Linked DNA regions of Homo sapiens. The protein of the gene in region 2 purifies or fractionates together with the protein of the main gene of each other region. This does not show direct contact. Each region holds a gene or a part of one and is shown on either strand. Other genes may lie near its edges.

Evidence for each region.
Region 1: the proteins of TRPV3 (region 2) and MMP15 purify together in Homo sapiens (affinity purification with mass spectrometry; one large-scale study listed by BioGRID and IntAct). This does not show direct contact.
Region 3: the proteins of TRPV3 (region 2) and NAT8L purify together in Homo sapiens (affinity purification with mass spectrometry; one large-scale study listed by BioGRID and IntAct). This does not show direct contact.

What each region holds. Positions count from the first base shown.
Region 1 is NC_000016.10:58,028,754-58,032,395, forward strand, and holds part of MMP15 (matrix metalloproteinase-15 preproprotein), read left to right. Parts: intron 1-3,642. UniProt on the Homo sapiens protein: Endopeptidase that degrades various components of the extracellular matrix. May activate progelatinase A.
Region 2 is NC_000017.11:3,554,995-3,559,359, reverse strand, and holds the start of TRPV3 (transient receptor potential cation channel subfamily V member 3), read left to right. Parts: upstream 1-1,547; 5' UTR 1,548-1,684; intron 1,685-4,365. UniProt on the Homo sapiens protein: Non-selective calcium permeant cation channel. It is activated by innocuous (warm) temperatures and shows an increased response at noxious temperatures greater than 39 degrees Celsius. Activation exhibits an outward rectification.
Region 3 is NC_000004.12:2,065,769-2,069,410, reverse strand, and holds the end of NAT8L (N-acetylaspartate synthetase), read right to left. Parts: 3' UTR 322-3,642; downstream 1-321. UniProt on the Homo sapiens protein: Catalyzes the synthesis of N-acetylaspartate acid (NAA) from L-aspartate and acetyl-CoA. Promotes dopamine uptake by regulating TNF-alpha expression. Attenuates methamphetamine-induced inhibition of dopamine uptake.

The DNA.
Region 1 (3,642 bases), on a different chromosome or scaffold from region 2:
CCACAGGACTTTCACGAGGCTGAGACATCAAGGAGCCTGGCATGTGCTAGGAACTGACAAACACCTGCAACCTGCCAGGCCCTAGCCCACCACTGAGCTGCCACGTCCTATCCCACATTCTCCCTTGGATGTCCAATCCCAGTCTGTAGCCATTCCGGGCCAGATCCCCACCTGGCTGAGGTGCTCACTGTTGTTCCTGCCCTGCAGGGCTGAGAGTCTCCAGGCTCACCGGGGGAGCTCTTATCTCACCTGCCTCCCCCTACCCCCTCCTCCCAGGCACAATTCAGGTCCTCAGCCTGCTCTGTGGAGGTGACTCAGGCTGCCAGAGTTCACAGGGGTGGTGCCACCACCACCAAAACCGATCCACCCGCCTTTCCTCAACAGGCCCACGAGTATCTTCCTAGCCCCTACCCAGCCACTGAGTAGATGAGGCAGCGGGGGTGGGGGCGTTGGGAGGGGGTCAGCGTGAATTACCATTTTGACCTTCAGGTGAGCCACAGTCTTGGGCTTCCTTAGCTTCAGTCTCTACTAGCACTTCCATGCTGGCTCCGGGGGGGCCCCACTGGTCCCCTCTTTCTTTTAAACAGAGCAAAACTACAGATGCCATCTGTGCCCACCAGCTAAGAAAAGGGAGTTAATAGCGGGGCCTTGTCATTGGGAATCTGCAGAAGCTGAATCTTCTCCCCCTCCCCTCTTGTCTCTGCTTTTTACTCTGTTTTCTTGCTAGTAGTAAATCACTCCTCTCCATGCTCTGTCAAGACCCAGAGAGAACTGGTCTGATTGGCACAGCCAGGGACCTAGATCTCATTGGGCCATGCCCTTCACACCCAGCCCTTGCCATGTTTCCGAGTTGGGGCTGCCCTTGGGTCCAGCCAGTCATCTGTCTCCTTGCAGAGAACAGCCCAGTGTAAGCTCCTTGTCTGAGCAGTGTATTGGCCTGACCTTCCCATTGTGACCTCTGAACATAAATACCTCCTTTGCCCCACCCCAAGGGATGTTGATACTTAAAAGATATCCATGAATGTGGAGAGGAGCAACATGGAAATACACGCTATCCCCACCCCCAAAAGAAGACTTTCCCCAAAAGCCCAGTGCCCACTGCTATCTCTTATGCCCATTCAGGATGGCTACACTGCAGGCGTGGAAAAGCCCCTCCCTGCCGAGCGGTTTGTTCTGCTGTCCCTCTGTGGCCCTTTTGTTGTTTGGTCCAGATGATCCCTTCCATCATCACCTCTGCCCTGCTGGGAGTTTGACCTCTGCCTCAGGCTAGCTGTGGTGGTCACTATGAGAACCACTACTTTCCAGATCAAATCAGAATGGGTATCCTCCATATCATCCCAAGGCTTAGGTGGCTCCCTGTCTTGGACACTCCAGCAGGAGCAATGCTTTGGTCCTGGAGATGTGTTTTCTGAGTCAGCAAAGACAGAGAGGGGTTGTGGACTCTGCCCTTATCTTTCTCCTTTACAAAGCGGGTCCTGGGAGAAGCCCACCATTGAGTGTGAGGACCGGGACCCTGAAGGCGGCTGAATGCTCCAGACCTGAGACACAGTAGGCACCATCTGGCTGGACAGCTCTGAGTGACGGCTCAGATAGGGCTGCTCCACAGTCAGACACAGGTTCCAGGGATTCCTGAGACCAGAGGCCATGGAGCTGGGCCTGGATCCCAGAGGCAAAGAGGGATGCCTCTTCCCTAATCCCATGGCCCTCGTGGGAATGGAAGAAAAAGTGGGAAGAGACCCAACTCAGCCTCCAGTATCAGGACAGGTGGATAAGCCCCTGGTACCAGCCATTAGCCAGCCCCTGGAGATGCCCCCCATCCTGCTGCCATCGGCCGATGGTGATGCAGGCCAAGGTCTAGATCACCTCTCCAGGGCACTGGCACTGGCACTGCCTTGTCCTTCCCCTAGGAGTGACTGTCACCCTGTAGGGGTGAGAGTCCAGCTCCACGTTCAGCGTTTCTGAGCATGGCACTTGATACATAGTGCACAACACGGTGGCCTACACCCTGTGTCCAGAGCCTCCCTGGCAAAATAGTGCAAAACAGTGACAGAAGCGAATGGCATTTACTGTTGGGCAAGTCACTGAATCTGTATGAACTTCAAGATCTCTATAAAAAGGGAATAGCAATGGTCTATCTGCTTGATGGAGTTACGGGGAGATTCATTGCATTTATGTGCAAAACACTAAACGCTATGCACAATGCCTGGCACAGGGGGCCTAAGGAGGCGCAGGTGTTATTTTTGAGCACCTTCAACATACTTGTGTCTGTTGTGGACACAGACTAGGGATGTTTTGTAAGCGTTTTCACATTTAATCCTTGTATTAACTCTTCAAGTGTAGATGCTGTCATTACTCAATCTACAAAAGAGGAAACTAATACTGTGAGTTGAGAGAAATGACCCCCGCATTCCATAGCCAGGGAGTGGCAGAGCTTGGATTTGAACCCAGCTCAGTCTGGCCTGGAGCCCAAGTTCCCAACCCCCATGCGGGGTTGAAGGCTACAGGTCAGAGCCTAGGGTGCCATCCTGTGGAAATTCCACCAGGCAGAATTCTGCTGGGCCCGATCCAGGTGGGAAAGAGGTTTCTGAGGTGGAGCCAGGGCTGCCTGAGCTGTGTGAGCCAAAAGCCCTCCCCCGGCCCACCCAGCCTTGCCCCCATCTGTCCAGCCACCCAAGCTCTGCCCTGTGGACAGCCCCGTCTAGGAGTCAGCACCTGCAGGGAGGTTTCCAGGTGAGGACCCAAGGCCGGGCCCCCAGCCAGGCCCGAAACTCCTGGCTAACAGAGGCCTCTTCACCCCGCGCGCTGGCCAGGGAACCCGGTTGTTTTTTCCTCCAAGTTAAGGAGTGTGGGGCAGGCTGGAAGGCTGCTGGGTAAAGAAGTGGTCAGACCTCAAGACGTCTTCCTCCTTCCTGCTTCTCCTGCTGGACTTCCCCACCACCCAGAGTCCCAGCCCCCACCTGCAACTCGCTTAAAGACCCATGGGAGGGAGCAGATTTAATCCCAGACTAAGCATGTGTGTCCTAGAACTGCTGAAATGTGGAACATGCTGCCTCTAAAGGTAGTGAGCAATCCTCCAAGGAGGACCTGGCTCGATGCCGCCTTTTTTTTTTTTTTTTTTTTTTTTTTTTTTTGAGACAGAGTCTCGCTCTTGTGGCCCAGGCTGGAGTGCAGTGGCGTGATCTCGGCTCACTGCAACCTCCGCCTCCCAGGTTCAGGCAATTCTCCTGCTTCAGCCTCCCAAGTAGCTGGGACTACAGGCGCTGCCACCACACCTGGCTAATTTTTTGTATTTTTAGTAGAGACAGGGTTTCACTGTGTTAGCCAGATTGTCTCAGTCTCCTGACCTCGTGATCTGCCCGCCTCGGCCTCCCAAAGTGCTGGAATTATAGGCGTGAGCTGCCATGCCCTGCCCATGCCACCTTTCTTTACTGGCCTTGGGGGTAGTTGCGCCATCGGCGCTCTCAACGCTGCTTGGTGGGTCGGAGTGATGATCTTGGCCCTATTTTGCAGAGGAGGGAACTAAGGCTCAGAAAAGTTATCCTAGCCGTCTTCCGTTGCTGGGAGGCCTGTTGTGTGGACTAGCAGTCAGGACCAAGGGGCAGCCTTCCGGGGGCTGACTTCCGCTCAGCCTGAGGAAGAGCT
Region 2 (4,365 bases):
CTTCCTAAGTAGTGACTGTGACTCCACTGGGTGACCTGGCTCCTGCTGCCTCTCATAGCAGAGCGGGGGTCCCCTTCTTCCTTGCTGGGCACAGGGCACACCTCTGGGTGGGAGACAGGGGCCTTTTTCACCAGCTCCCACCTGCCCTCTGAGAAAAGTTATGAACACGAGCAAAATGGAAGCACTGACATTTGGCAGCAGCTTCCTCCCCAGGCGTCTGAGCCGCCAGAGGCAAACAGGGAGGGCGCGGGGCTGGGTCGGGAGAGGGTGAGTAAGCTAGTGGCCGGAGGCCGTGCTCAACCCCAGATCGGGCTTTTCCGGTCGAGTTTCAGGCACAGTCATGAGATTTCAGATTGTGAGTGGGAACTTCAGGACCCCCTGACTTCAACGGCAGAAGCGGTCTCCTGCTTCACCCACACCCTCAAGTCTGGTCTGCCCCTTACCGGCCATAGGTCCTGCTCTCCCGTGGCCTAGAAGCCTCACCTGCCTCCTGCCTCCTCCCCAGGCCAGGCAGGTTGTGATGATGAGGGATTGAGAGGCTCACAGCTGGGGATTTCCCTGCCCATCAGGCGCCAGCTGCGGCCGCGTCAGCAGAGACTTCCTGCTCTGTCCCAGCTGTGTCTTGTCCACATCTCGCCCCGGGGAGCAGGTGTGCAGTTCCTGAGTGACGCGAGACACACACGGCCATCCTGACTCACTCCACCCACTTCACAGCTGCAGCCTGGGCCAGGAGAGAGGGCACCGATTCCTTCTATGACGCCCTGGCCTTGGAGAAGGGCAACCTGGGCAGTTGCTGGGAGAATACATTGAGATGACAAAAGCAATCATAGCTAAGAGCTGACATTGTTTATTGAGTTCTTGCCGTGCCCTGGGCCTTGTTCTGGCCCTTTCTACTTGTACTTGTTGAAGCCCCACGATAACCTTGCAAAGTGGGTTTATGAAGCACGTTTCACAGATGAGGAGACTGAGGCTCGGAGAAATGACCTGCTAAGGTCATTCAGCCAGGAAGGGGTGAGGCTGACACTAAGGGCCATGATGCGTGACTGCTGGTGGACAGCATTAAATGGGGACTTCCGTCCCCGAGAGACCTGATCCCAGGAACCGACTTTTGAGAACAAGTGCCGAGTCTTGGGGCTGGCCACCCTGAGGTCAACCAGGCTAGGCCTGGGCTGCGGTCTTCCCTCCCAGGGGACAGAGCAGAGCGCTTGACTCTTCACTAGGCCCTCCCACCTCTGTGATCTCTTTGGCTCTTCACGGCTCCCTTGGAAAGTAGATGTTATCATTCCCATTTCCTAGTTGGAAAAATAGGCCTGAGATGGGCAGTCCCTGCCCAGCATGGAATGCCAGAGAGGGAGGAGTTGGACCCACAACTTCGATCTTGGCACCTGCGGCCTCCCCTGCCTTTTCTCCGGTGGGGATGAGGCTGCTGTGTGGGTGTGGGGGTGACTCACACGGGCCACGTGGGTGGGCGGGTGCTGCAGCTGTGGCTGGTGGGCGTGGCCTGCCTGGCGCCGAGGGCAGGTGGCTCAGCCAGTTCTGCCTCTGACGCCTCATTCCAGCCATCCCTCTGCCTGCAATGAGAGCTTCCCGCCGCCTCAGCCACAGTCCCACCCGGGGGCCTTGGGCCCCAGACATGCGGTGATCTCAGGGCAAGGGTTGCCACGACCACCCAGAACCTCACCAGGTGAGTCTTCTGTGCACAAGGCAGCTGGTGATCTCCAAGGCCCCTGGGGAGCCCAGAGCGTGGCCCTCAGAGGTCCTCTGGGCCATGTCTGCCCTTGGCCAATAGGCCTTGGGAGGAGGGTTGGAAGGAGCTTGGGCCCCAGCCAGGGGCCCACTCTTGGCTGTAGGGAGGCACTCTTGGCTGCACTCTTGGCTGTAGGGATGTGTGAGAATATAGGTCCTTACAGACTCAGGAACATTCCCCTGAGGTTTGGGAATCCTGGGGAGGGACATCTCAATCTCACCACTGCTGGGGGCAGAGGAGAGGCTCCTGCCTCCCGAGGCTGACCCAGGGAGGTGGCTTTCTGGGGCAGGATTGTGATGGGAGTTCAGGATGGGAGGAGGTGGCCCCACCGTGGGAGACAGACGGGGCCCAGGCATCTCACAGGTGCTGAGTCAGCAGCTGTGGCTCCGCGGCCTGGTCTGTCGCCCGGGAAAGGCCATTTCAATCAGTGTCAGGGATTGGGAGAGAGAGGGAGGGCCAGGGCAACAAGAGAGTCCAGCAGGTGAGAACGTGGGGTTTACGGGGTGACTCAGGGAGCTAATGATAGCTGCTGCGGCCCTAGTCCAGAGTTCCCTGAGCCTCTCCTGCCCCAGAGGCCCAGGGCAGGCCACATTCTCGGGCCCAGAGAAGAGAGAGAGCAACCAGCTCTCAGGGCCACAGAGTCCTTGGGGACCATTCAGCCCACTTCTCAGAAAGGAAACCAGAGGCCCTGGGAGGGGCAAGAGACGTGCCCTTCTTCTGTCTCCTTCACGCTCGGTGCATCCCAGCCTTTTAGTCCACCAAAGGCCACGTGGGGATGGGGAAAGCCATAGAGGCTGCCCATCCTCATCAGGCCGTGACTGGACACGGGAGGGCCGGGTGCCCAGGAGTCCCTCTCTGTGGGCTACTCCACCTGCCTGGCCTCAAGGTTGCCTACGCTCCAGGGCCAAAGCTCTCCCTCGCCGATGCCTCCTCCATCCTGAGCCTGCTCCCTTTGAGTTGGAGGGCGGGGGACTCTCTCCAGCCTGATGACACCTGGCTCCGGAAACTTCCTCCAGGAAGCTTTCCTATTGGGGTAGGATCACCAGTGGCCCCAGCTCCACCCCACCCAGCTGGGTTCTTCTTACAGAAATCCGTCTTCCTGCCCCCACCTATGTGTCGCCAGGTGAGTCCCCTGAGGATGATTCAAGCTGAGAGTGGCACCCCCTGACCACACAGTCACCACCTGTCCACACAGCCCTTTCCCCGCCCATGTCATCCCTCTGTGGCCAGCTGGCCCCCTTCCCCGTCCCTATGGCCCCTGCAGCAGCCTCCTCCTGGCCCCTGGCTTCTGGTCTCCCCCACCCCCCAACGCAGCCCGCGCTCTCCTATGTAACCCAGAGCCTCTGCACCCAACTCCCAGCTGCCCCCAGGGGTCAGCCATAGCTCCTTTTTTATGTTTAATAAAAACTTTATTTTTTTTTTTTTTCATTTTTTTTGAGACGGAGTCTCGCTCTGTCGCCCAGGCTGGAGTGCAGTGGCACAATCTCGGCTCAATCCAACCTCTGCCTCCTGGATTCAAGTGATTCTCCTGCCTCAGCCTCCCGACTAGCTGGGACTACAGGCATGTACCACCATGCCCGGCTAATTTTTTGTATTTTAGTAGAGACGGGGTTTCACCATGTTGCCCAGGCTGGTCTTGAACTCCTGAGCTCAGGCAATCTGCCCACCTTGGCCTCCCAAAGTGCTGGGATTACAGGTGTGAGCCACTGTGCCTGCCTGAAGCCACAGCTCTTATGCGGTGTTCGAGGACTATACAGGGCCCAGCCTGCCCGCATGGCTTTCGCTGGCAGGGTCCCCATGAGCTCCCCAGGTTCTCTGGCCACAGCAGCTCCCCCCACTCCTGCCACTCCTGACCCTCCCAGGCTCTGTCCTCTGCCCGGCTTGTCCTTCCTCCACACAGCAGCCTGTACGGTCTATCCTGGTCTTGTTGGAAGATGTATCAGTCCCCCTTCCCCAATCCCCACACCCCTCGGAGCTCAGCACGGTGCCCAGCCCACATTGAGCATCAGTAAAGCAGGTCTGGACTGGGGGGTCGGCCTCCTCTGCCTGGGGCAAGGGGACTCAGCTGCTCCCTGCAGGTGAGAGGGGAATCTAATGGACAGGCAGCCATAAGCTGGTTACACACAGCTTTGGGTGGGCGGGGGAGATGATCGGTGTGTTGGCTGCAGAGACCACCTGGACACTGAGGAATCCAAAACACCTGAGGAGCTTAAGGCTGTGTTACTAGGAGCATAACATCTAGAGCAAAGGAGGTGATAATCTTGCTCTGTGGAGGTCAAAACTCTTGGAGAGCTGCTCATCACAAAATCGGAGAGGGACCTCAGGAAAGCAGAGCTAGTGCTTAGGAGTCCGCCTGGGACTGGTCAGCTGGAGAGGGTGTCATGAGAGAGGACAGGGGCATGGTGGTCTCTACCGGGACACCCTGCTGGACTCTCCACTAGTTCAGGGGTCCACCTGGGGACTGGTTGGCTGGGGAGGGTGTCATGAGAGAGGACAGGGGCATGGTGGTCTCTACTGGGACACCCTGCTGGGCTCTCCTAGGACCATAGCATTTGGGGGTGCTAGAGCAGGGAGCTGGGGAAGCTTTGGGGACAGCTTCTCTGTCCTTGAAGAAGGAT
Region 3 (3,642 bases), on a different chromosome or scaffold from region 2:
CTGCTCAGGGGGATCCCAGGCCTGAGAGTGAATGGGCAAAGCCCACCCGGCTGGGTGCCTGCTGGGGGAGGGGCCTCAGCCCATGGGGCCACCAAGCCCCCCTGCCCCACCTCCTGGATTACACTCCCTCCAGGGGGCAGTGCTGGCTGCAGGGCAGCCTGGCCAGGTGTAGGGGAGCCGAGGTGGGGAAAGGGGGTGGCCAGGGGAGAAGGGGGAGGCGGCGGGGGCCAAACTGGGCAACCAAGGGTGGGGCCACATCCCTGAAAGCCAGCCCTGCCACACAGTGGGCAGGAAGCGCCTCAAGAGAGCACGGGAGCCAGGTGCCTTCAACTCTGGTTTTATTGAAAAACAGCAGCATTGGGGGCCATTCAGGGGAGGGGCACACACCCACCCCCGGCCCCCGCAGCCCCTCTCCTCAGAACTCGCTCGCCCCCACCCTGGGGGCTGTTTTGGCACATCTGGGGCCTCAGAACAATCTGCCCCCGCCGTGGGCTCACAGTACAGTTTCGGGAACAAACAGCAGCAGGTGAACCCCACCCCCTGTGCTCCCCAAGCCTGGCCTCCCCGGACCTGCCCTGGAGCTGCCCAGGCCCTCCACCCAGGCCCTGCTCCACTGAGGGGCAAGAGGGGCCAGGGAGGCTCAGCCCGGGGCCTGGGGCCCAGCAGGGAAGCCGTGAGCAGGACCTGCTTCCCCGGGCACTGCCAGCCCACCACCGCCGGGTACCTGCACAGCCACATATATGCAAGTACACACACAGGCACTCGCACGCATGCATGCTCATGCAACACACATGTACACTCTACATGTACAGCTCACATATGCATCCATACACATGTGCATGCTCACCCATACACCAGCCACACACAAGTACTCATACGCATACATGCCCACACACAAAGTACACACACGTACACCATATGCATATGTATGCACTCATACACTCATACATATGTGCCCCCTCAGAGAAGTACACAAGAACATGCGCATCACACATGCATACGTGCTCATGCATACACACGCACATTCATACACACGTGCATGCTTATGCATACCCAAGACACAAACACATGTACACGCACACATGCGCACACACACGTACATCTATACACGTGCTCACGCATGTACACAACTCATGCACATGTACACCTATACACGTGTACACACACATGCATGCTCACGCGTGTACATGCTTATGCACCTACAACATGCACGTGCACAGGCTCACACATGCACACATGCTCACACTACACATATCCAAGAACCCACTTGCACACACACACACGCTCAAACACGTGCACATGCACACACACAGGTACATCCCTCCTTTAAAATGGCTAATTATTGCTGTTTTAAAAAAAATACATCCAACAATGGTATGTCCGGCTCGCCATCCTTCACCCCACCATGGCCCCGGGAGGCATCACGCCACCTCTGGAAGCACAGCAGCCGTGGCGCGGAGGAGTAAGCGGATCCCAGGGTCTGCAAGTCTGGAACTCAAACCCCAAGTGTCAGCTCTGTGGCCATCAGCCCAGGAACACAGGCCTGTGGCCAAACAGAAGCAGCTTCCAAACAGACATAAGCAAGTCAGCAGGCAACACAGGGTGCGCGACTGCAGCGCCAGCCCACGGGGGATGGCAGTGGGCTCCCTTGGCGCAGGGGCAACTGTCCCACCGTCCCTCGGGCACTGACAGGAAGGTGGCCCCACGAGGGCCCACACAGCCCCCTGCCCGGCGGGGCAACCACCTTCGGCCCCCACAAAGCCCAGGCGCCAGCAGAGCCCAGGAACCCAAGTTCCCAGCCTCAGGCCACCAGCACAGCCCTGGGTGCCCCAGGGCAGGCGGGCCTCTCAGAGGGGAGCCAGGTCCCTATGGCCCAGAGAGCTTCCCCAGCACCTGCCACACAGCCAGGAAGCTCAGGGCGTCCCCAGCCCGTCGTCCCCTCTAGGGCCTGCAGCCTTCTGCCATCTTCTCTGAGAAGGACACCCAGAGCAGGAGAGGGGTGGCCCCAGGACCTCGTGGCCTCAGGCCTGCTGTCCACAGGGCCTCCCAGGCCCAGCCTTCCCCCAGGGCCAGCCATCCACCCCTCAGGCCAGACTGACCCAGCCCTTGGCCCCTCCCTCCGGGGGCAGCTTCTCACCTGCTGCCCGGCCCCAAGGCATGCCACCAGCCGGAAGCAAGGCTGGGCATGGGGCGGAGGAAGGAGGAGGAGATGCCGCCACGGCTGCGGGGCTCAACTCCCTACGCTCAGGAGCCCTTCTGGGGGCCAGACCACATGGCAGCTTCAGCACAAGCAGGCCTCCCACCCTCAGGGACCAGGTCTGCAGCGACTCACACCTGGGCAGTGGCAGCTGCCTGGGGCCACCCCACCCCCAGCACAGCAAGACCCGTGGCTCTGGGCAGTGTGGGGCATCCCGAGGCGCTTCAGCCCTCAGCTGCCCGGAGCCTCTCGTCAGGCCTGCAGTGCTCGTCCAGTGAGGATGTCCTCCTTCGCCCAGCTCTGGCCCCAGGCACTGTCAGCCCCTCCCGCCTTCCACGCCCCCCACTCCAAAAACAGAGGCTTCCAAACACACAGAAATCCCAGGAGCCCCAGGCCCCTGAGCAGTGCTAGGGCCCGGCCTGGCTTTCCCCGGGCCTCACCACGCAGAGTTTGAGTGGTGGGTGCCCATGGGGAGCGGGCAGGGGGCCAGCACTCGGGGAAGCCGCACCAGCCACGTGACAGCAGGGCCCAGGAGGGCGCTTCAGAGGTAGAAGAAGTTACATCAGAGTTTCTACAAACGTATAAAATTCACGTCAGTGCACATGTGCAGAGCAGTGAGATCCCAGGCTGGAGGGATGAGGTGGGCCAGGTCAGGCCCACCCACCAGGCACCCGGCCTCCAGCCCCGGGGGAGGACACACCTACCCCCCAGTGGCCTTCAAGGGCGCCACCAAGCTACACATTGGCCTGGCAAGGGTTCCGGGCAGCTCCGCCCCAGCCTGGCAGGCACACCAGTGCCTCTGCTCACCTCAGGGGCGGCAGGGTTCTGCACACAACCACCCCGCACACCCTTCCTGCCATCTCTACCAAGTCCTGGCAGCAACAAAAAAGGCCAAGCGTCTCACCACCCACAGGGCAGTGCAGCCAAGGAAGAGGTCACTCACGGGCGCAGATGCCACCAGAATGAGAGAAGGCCACACTGCCCAGGACTCTCAGAACCCCCAGGAGGGGGATCTGCTAGGATCAATATCAAGGAGACACTGGCAGTCCCTGGGCCTCCAGGCCCTGCCCTGGCGTCGGTGGGCTCCAACAGCCACCCCCAAGCACCCTGCACCCCAGGAGCCCGAGGCTCCAAAGGCACAGGACCAAGGGACGCTGGCAGCACCCCGACATGACACCCCCAAGACCTGACTCCACCTGGCCCGCCCTGCCCCTCCTGCCCCCAGCATGCCCCGCACCAACTGGGACCAGCCCCAGGCCAAACCCAAACCAAACCAAAAGAGGAAAAAGGCACAACTGTTTGTTTCCATTTTGCTAAAACACTTTACGTCTGTCTGTATATTCCAGATTAACAAAATCTGAGCTGCAAGAAAATAGGGTGCCGATTTCTGTACAGTCTACAAAACTCCCATCCCCAAGCGGGGACCGGGCACCTCCAGGGAGGAA